2 linked regions of the Homo sapiens genome follow. The protein of the gene in region 1 interacts with the protein of each later gene in a biochemical or structural test. Each region holds a gene or a part of one and is shown on either strand. Other genes may lie near its edges.

Region 1 (3,818 bases):
GATGAGTTACTTCTCTTGATGCTTTCAACATTCTCTCTTTACCTTTTGACAGTTTGATTATCGTGTGTCTTGGTGTAGTTTATCCTACTTGGAGTTTCTTGAGCTTCTTAAATGTGGTTAATGTTTTTCCTCAAATTTGAGAAGTTTCTGAGCATTATTTATTTAAATATTGTTTTAGTCTGTTCAGGCTGCTATAACAAAACACCATAAACTGGGTAGCTTATAAACATCGGAAATTTATTTCTCACAGTTCTGGAGGTTGGGAAGTCCAAGATCAAGGAACCGGCAGATTTGGTATCTGGTGAAGGACCATTTTCTGGTTCAGACAGTGCCTTCTCACTGTGTTCTCACGTGGTAGTAGGGCAAGTGATCTTCTTATTACTCTAAGAGTGGTAATCCCATTCATGAGGGCTCTACTCCCATGACCCAGTCACCATCCAAGTCCCTACCTCCCAATACCTTGGGGGTTAGGATTTCAGCATATAAATTTAAAAGACCTCATCATATAAAAAGACACAAACATTCAGACCAGAGCAAATATTCTTTCCAGCCCTCCCGCCTTTCCATATGTTACTCTCATTACACTGTGTCTGCTGTGCATGTTGGTGCACTTGAGGGTGTCTCACAGGTCTCTAAGGGTCTGCTCTTCAAACTGGATATTCCAATTAATTTATCTTCGACTTCACTGATTCTTTCTTCTGTCTACTCAATTCTGCTATCTAAGCCCTTTAGTGAACCATTCAGTTACTGTACTTTTCAGCTATAAACTCTGTTTAGTTCCTTTCTATAATTTCTATATTGATATTCTCTATTTGATGATGTATCATTCTTCTGGTTTCCTTTAGCAATTTGAGCATAATAAAGACAGCTTACTTAAAGTCTTTGCCTGTGCTTCCCTGGGGGAAGTTTCTGTTCGTTTCCTCTGTATAAGAGCCTTACTTTGTTTCTTTGTATGTTTCATAATTTTTTGTAGAAAACTGGACATTTTGAATATTACAATGTGACGACGCTATAAATCAGATGTTTCCACCTTCTAGGGGTTTGTTGTTGCTGTTTATTGTAGTTGTTTCCTCATTTAATGACTTATCTGAACTAATTTTGTAAAGTCTGTTTCTTTGTTATGTGTGGCCAGTGAAGTCTCTGTTCCATTAGTTAGTAGTCTGCTAGTGATTAGAAAGAAATTTCCTTAAACCTCTGCAACCAAAAAATTCTGCCAGTCTTTGCAGATGGGCTCTGCGTGTTGGGACATGCCTTTAGTATTCAGCCAGGCAGTTTATAACTCCACCTTAGTCTTCACTTCCTGCTTGTGCGGAGACTTAAAGTGAGCCAGAAGAGAGAGCTCTGGGTCTTCGCGGGTCTTTCCTGAGCATGCACAAAGCTCTGGGAATGCACGTACCCTTCTAGATTACCAAGAATATGTCAGAGAATTTCAAAGCCCTCATTCCCCAAAGCATCTCATTCCCAACCTTTCTGGTTAGTTTTGGTTTACTCCAACTGTTTTCCTTTGCCTCGGGCAACAGTAGCTAAAACATATGTCTGTAAATACTTTTAACAAACACCCCCAAGGTAGATACTTTTCCATGAAGAGTTCCAAGTTAGGTGACATAAAGGCAGACCTCTTTTTTTTTAAACAGTCTTCTAGCAAGCCACCAGACAGATGAAAACAAGTTAATTACAATTCTTTCTGAATTAGGTCTATCCTGCTCCCTATATCAGTACCAGGAATGGAGTCTGTTATTTTCAAGGCTATCACTGAGCTGAGAAGCAGATGGGACAAGGGTAGCCAAATGCCACAAAGCTCACTGTTCTTACTGAGATTCAGTGTATTTTCTTGATTAAATGTTCCCCTGATTGCTACAAGCTTTTGGTTAGTTACCAGAGTTCCAAAAAAGTTGATTCTGGGTCAGACACAGTTGCTCATATCCTGTAATCCCAACACTTTCAGAGGCTGAGGCAGGAGGACTGCTTGAGCCCAGAAGTTTGAGACCAGCCTGGGCAACATGGGGAGACCCCATCTCTACAAAAGTTAGCCAGGCGAGGTGGTGCATGCTTGTGGTCCTAGCTACTTGGGAGGTGGAGGTGGGAGGATCGCTTAGGCCTAGGAGATCGAGACTACAGTGAGCTGTGATCTTCTGACAGTGTTGTTGTTGCTTTTATGGAAGACTGGATTTTCTGGAGCTCCTTACTCTACCGTTTGATTTCTTTTAAATCTAGAATTATGCTAAAATCCAGAAAACATATCATTATCAAAGCATATCATCAAATAGATGCAAAAATAATAAATTATAAATCATAATACAAAGAAGAGCAAGCAAAATATATGACCTAGTCTTAATATAAAAAACAAATGTAAATTAGATCAAGTTCTTTAAAACACTGTTAACAGTAAATGCAGCAGCTAATTTTTTTTAAGACTCTTTCTCAAAGCATCCCTCCTCCATGTAAATCAAGAGCCTAACACAAAACACAACTCAGAGGAAAAATTCCTACAGGGAGCTAGTTCTTTATTCTCAGTATACAAGGAAAAGCAGTCACCATCATTTGTTATTTGCATCTAATGGAAACTTTACACACACACACACACACACACACACACACACACACATATTTTACAAAGAATGTTGAGAAGAATCAGGAAATAGTGGAAAACAACTTTATTAGATTTTTTCTAAGTATTTAAGTACAGCAAATCCAGATAGTCATTCCACATTTTCCTTGTTTTTAAGATATAGCTGAAATGGGCTATGTCCTGTGAATACAACTGCCCATCAACCATCATGGATAAACATGGAACACATGCGTCTTATGGAACACATCCATTTTATAAATTTCATAAGTCAGATATCTATTAATAAAGTTATAGCTTATGGTTGTATCTTGTTCTTTTTTTGGCATCTACATTGCCATAATATAATACCTGAAAGCTTGAAGTTTTGAAACCTTTAACGGCTCATAATTTGTTGAAGGATGGCTATCCTCTGATCTACATTTTGCAAAATATTTTCATTTTTAGATTTATAACCATTATTTAGAATGATCAAGCCAATTATTTTTTTTTTCATTCCTATACCTATTTCCTTCCAATCACTTCTCTATACACCCCTGCTTTCAGCATTTGTCTATTTATAAAACCATATCCAGTCTATTTTGGAACACAAATATAAGAGATAAAAGAATAGCAGAACACATCCTTTACTACTTGTCCATGACAAAATATTATGTGAGAAATTCCTTCTTCTTAAATGACTGAGTAGAATACCATATTTCTTTTCTTTTTTTTTTTTGTTTGTTTGTTGTTGTTGTTGTTGAGACAGAGTCTCACTCTGTTGCCCAGGCTGGAGTGCGGTAGGACGATCTTGGCTCACTGCAACCTCCGCCTCCTGGGTTCAAGCAATTCTCATGCCTCAGCCTCCCGAGTAGCTGGGATTACAGGCCTGTGCAACCACACCGGCTAATTTTCAAATTTTTAGTGCAGACGGGGTTTCACCATGTTGGCCAGGCCAATCTGGAACTCTTGACCTCAAGTGATCCACCCATCTCGGCCTCCCAAAGTGCTGGGATTACAGACATGAGCCACCGCACCCGGCCTCATATTTTCTCTTGATCCTTAAAAATACATTGTTCAATCATCAAATTTTTAGTTGAGAAAACTCAGATAATGAGATCTTATTTGAAGATTCATAGTAGGTAATTTTGCTTATATGATCCACTTTACCATCGTCATCAGTGTAGAATTTACCTTTCAGTATTCATTTTCTGATTTGTCTAATAATTGTGAAACTTCTTCCTCTGTCAATTTTCTTCTCTTTGCCATTATG
Region 2 (3,818 bases), on another chromosome or scaffold:
TCCCAGACCACTAAGCGGTGAGTGATGGCATCCTGGGCTCTAGGACACTGGTGTCAGTTGTTATCAGTTTGCTGTGTCCCTTTTTTTTTGCATAAGAGCTGTGACTGCTTCTACTGAAGGGACAAGGGCAGGCACAAGGGAGGGAAGGGGCTCTGGAGGACTGTGGGCCACGTGGCAGCCTGTGCTGTCTCCCAGCCCCCGCGTCATCCTCTCCCCAACTGAGCTGGCCTTGGCCTACCTGCCCTTGTTTGCCAGGACTCCCACCTTCAACCCCGGCACCCCTGGCCTGCGTGACCCAGTTACCCTCCCTGGCTCCTCTCAGGGACCTCAGTATCACATTCGCTGGCCTCTGTGCTGAGCAACTCATTAGAAAATGTATTGATGCCTACGGAAATAGCAGCACAGGGCGGGGGGTTGTGGGGAACGTTTCTGGGAATGAGGAGGGCCCTGACTTTGCCCTCGAAGCGTTCGGGGGAGCAGTCACGTAGGCAGACATCTGCACACGGCGGATCTGAAAGCAGAAGCAGGCGTGGCGAGAACAGAGAGAATCACACACAGACCCGGGCTCTGGCAGCCGCCGGCTTCACTGATGCCATCTCCACAGCGCTCCCACACCAGGCCCCAGAGCAGGAACTACTGCTCACAGGGCATTTCCCTATGCCAGGCCCCACTCTAGGTATTTCACGCACATTTACACATTTAATCCTCAAAACCACCGTCTGCAATGGACCATCTCATCCCCATTTTACGGAGGGGAAACTGAGTCATAGAAAGAGGATGCCACTTGCTGAGGGTCACAGAAGTGGTGGAGTTGGGGTGTGAACCCAGCAGGCTGGCTCTAGGGCCCATGCTCTGACCCACGCTGCGGAAGGCAGCCGAGGCTCGGCAGATGAGGGCCCTGCCTGCACTCCAGTCTACAACTGAGTGCTGGGCTCAGGACCAGAACCCCGGTCTGTCTGATGCAAAACTCGGAGCCTTTTCCATCATGCCAGGAGGCCACCGTGATTGGGAAAGCAGTGAGGAGTTGCGGCAATAGCAGGGCGATGGCACGGTGCAGGTGCAGGCAGGAATCGATAGCGTCTGGCAACTGTGAGCAGCAGCAGGCCTGAGGTGAGGGTCAGGGCTTGGAGACCTCCCAGAGACTACACCATGGGCCTCGGGGCCCTGGAAGCTGTGCAGCATGGTGGAGGCTGAGGTCCCATCTAACTGGCACTGTGATTTTCACAACCCCCCTTACCTCTCGGGACCTCAGTCTTGACTCCTGCTAACAAGCCTCTGTGATCTGAGGCCCCTTCTTGGCACCGAGCCTCAGATTCTCAGGGTCCTGCACGGGTGGCTGATCTCCCTCCCTCTCCACACCACCCCTACTCTTGCTGTGCGGGGGTTCTCCCTTATCCAAGGCTCTGCTAACCGGGAGCGGTTGCCAGGTGTGCTGGGGTCCCCAGAGAATCCCCGAACTCCCCGTCCCCGTCAAACAGCCAGGGCTGATGCAACCTGCCTGCAACCACCGCCTCACTCCCCAAGCCAGGCCCCTCCGCACCGAAAAAGAGTCCCCAGTAGCCCCACCCTTGCTTCAAGCCCCAGCTCAGGAGTTGAAGGGGAGCTCGAGGCTGGGGGAGGCCAGGACATGAGTCCTGAAGGGGCCACAGGCCTGGGTCAGGAATGTGCACACGAGGGGACTCAGGGTTCGAAGATCTGGGGAGAAGGGTCGCAGGCAACCACTGATGACCGGCTATGAACTAGAACAGGCTGGGAGGGGCTGGAGAGCTAAGGGTGCCAACTGGCACCCACTCACCCTGAGTCCAGCTGCTAAGTCTGGCTGGGCTGAAGTGGGTGGGACCCAATAGCTAGAGAGAAAAGGCGGCAAAACGGTGGGGAGGGGAAGCAGAGTCCCTGCCCAGACACCTCTGCAGCCAGCATAAACCGCACATAGCCAGCAATGCAATTCTCCTACTGACCAAGCTATTAAAAATTACCCACACCGGGCCAGGCGCGGTGGTTCACGCCTGTAATACCAGCACTTTGGGAGGCTGAGGCGGGTGGATCGCCTGAGTTCGGGAGTTCGAGACCAGCCTGACCAACATGGAGAAACCCCGTCTCTACTAAAAATACAAAATTAGCCATGTGTGGTGACACATGCCTGTAATCCTAGCTACTCGGGAGGCTGAGGCAGGAGAATCTCTTGAACCCAGGAGGCAGAGGTTGCGGTGAGCCGAGATGGCACCATTGCACTCCAGCCTGGGCAACAAGAGTGAAACTCCGTCTCAAAAAACCAAAAAAATTAAAAAACAAAACAAAACAAAAAACCCAGGCCGGGCACAGTGGCTCAGGCTTGTAATCCTAACACTTTGGGAGGGTGAGGCAGGAGGATCGTTTGAGCCCAGGAATCAGGAATTCAAGACCAGCCTGGGCAACATAGTAAGACCCTCCCCCCCATCTCTACTAAAAAAAGCCAAAAAAAAAAAAAAATAGCATCCTACCTGGCCATCCTCTCAATATCCCGCAATCCCAGTCTGAGACAAAACCAAATGGAAGCACATTCCATAAAATACCCAACCAGCATTTTTCCAAACTGTCAAGGTCATGAAGGACAAGGAAAGTCTAAAACCAGTCACAGGCCAGAGGAGGCTGCGGAGCCATGATGCCTAAATATAACGTGGCATCCTGAAGGCATCCGGAAGGAGCAGAAAGGGCATTAAGTAACAACTACCAAAATCAGCATCAAGTGTGGTCAGAATCAAGAATGGCATTTGGTCAATGGTAACATACTGATGTTGCCTTGGTTGTGACAAATGTGGCAAAGTAATGTAAAATGTTAATGGAAAAAACCAAGTGAGGGGCATACAGAAATTCTCCGTATTATCTTTGCAACTTTTCTGTTGAGTCAATCTACAATTATTCCAAAATAAAAAATTTTATTTAAAAAATAACCCCCTTGGGTACGGTGGCTCACACCTGTAATCCCAGCACTTTGGGAGGCTGAGGCAGGCAGATCACGAGGTCATGAGTTCGAGACCAGCCTGACCAACATGGTGAAACCCTGTATCTACTAAAAATATAAAAATTAGCCAGGCATGATGGTGCATGTCTGTAATCCCAGCTACTCTGGAGCCTGAAGCAGGAGAATGGCTTGAACCTGGGAGGCGGTGGTTGCAGTGAGCTGTGACGGTGCCACTGCACTCCAGCCTGGGCAACAGAGCGAGACTCTGTCTCAAAAAAAAAAAAAAAAAAAAAAGCTAGGTCTTGCTTAAGACTGGGTGTGGTGGCTCATGCCTGTAAATCCCAGCATTTTGGGAGGCCGAGGTGGGTGGATCACCTGAAGTCAGGAGTTCAAGACCAGCCTGGCCAACATGGCAAAACCCCGTCTCTACTAAAAATACAAAAATTAGCCAGGCGTGGTGGTGGGCGCCTGTAATCCCAGCTACTTGGAAGGCTGAGGCAGGAGAATTGCTTGAATCTGGGAAGTGGAGGTTGAAGTGAGCCAAGATCATGCCACTGCACTCCAGCCTGGGCGACACAGCAAGACTCTGTCTCAAAAAAACCAAACCAAACCAAACCAAACCCAGTCCCCATGTACAATCTAGAAGATCTTCGTAGGAAAAGATTCTACCGGCGGGGCGGGGGAGATAGGGCACGTCTGTGCGTCCTTACCACTGGCAGTCTGCCCAACAGTCTACCCTTAATTCCATCTGCTTTTGTTCAAAAATCTATACAGCAATGGAATGAGAACACATCCACCTTAATTACAGCAATAACAATAACCACTTTTATGCAGCACCTACTGTGTCCCAGGCGTTAGTCTAACTGCTCGACACGGA

What was found.
Region 2: the proteins of HIKESHI (region 1) and NUP62 form a complex in vitro, tested with the Homo sapiens proteins (one study listed by IntAct).

The regions. Positions count from the first base shown.
Region 1 is NC_000011.10:86,333,024-86,336,841, reverse strand, and holds part of HIKESHI (protein Hikeshi), read right to left. Parts: intron 879-3,818; exon of another isoform or gene 1-878. UniProt on the Homo sapiens protein: Acts as a specific nuclear import carrier for HSP70 proteins following heat-shock stress: acts by mediating the nucleoporin-dependent translocation of ATP-bound HSP70 proteins into the nucleus.
Region 2 is NC_000019.10:49,922,996-49,926,813, forward strand, and holds part of NUP62 (nuclear pore glycoprotein p62), read right to left. Parts: intron 1-3,818. UniProt on the Homo sapiens protein: Essential component of the nuclear pore complex. The N-terminal is probably involved in nucleocytoplasmic transport.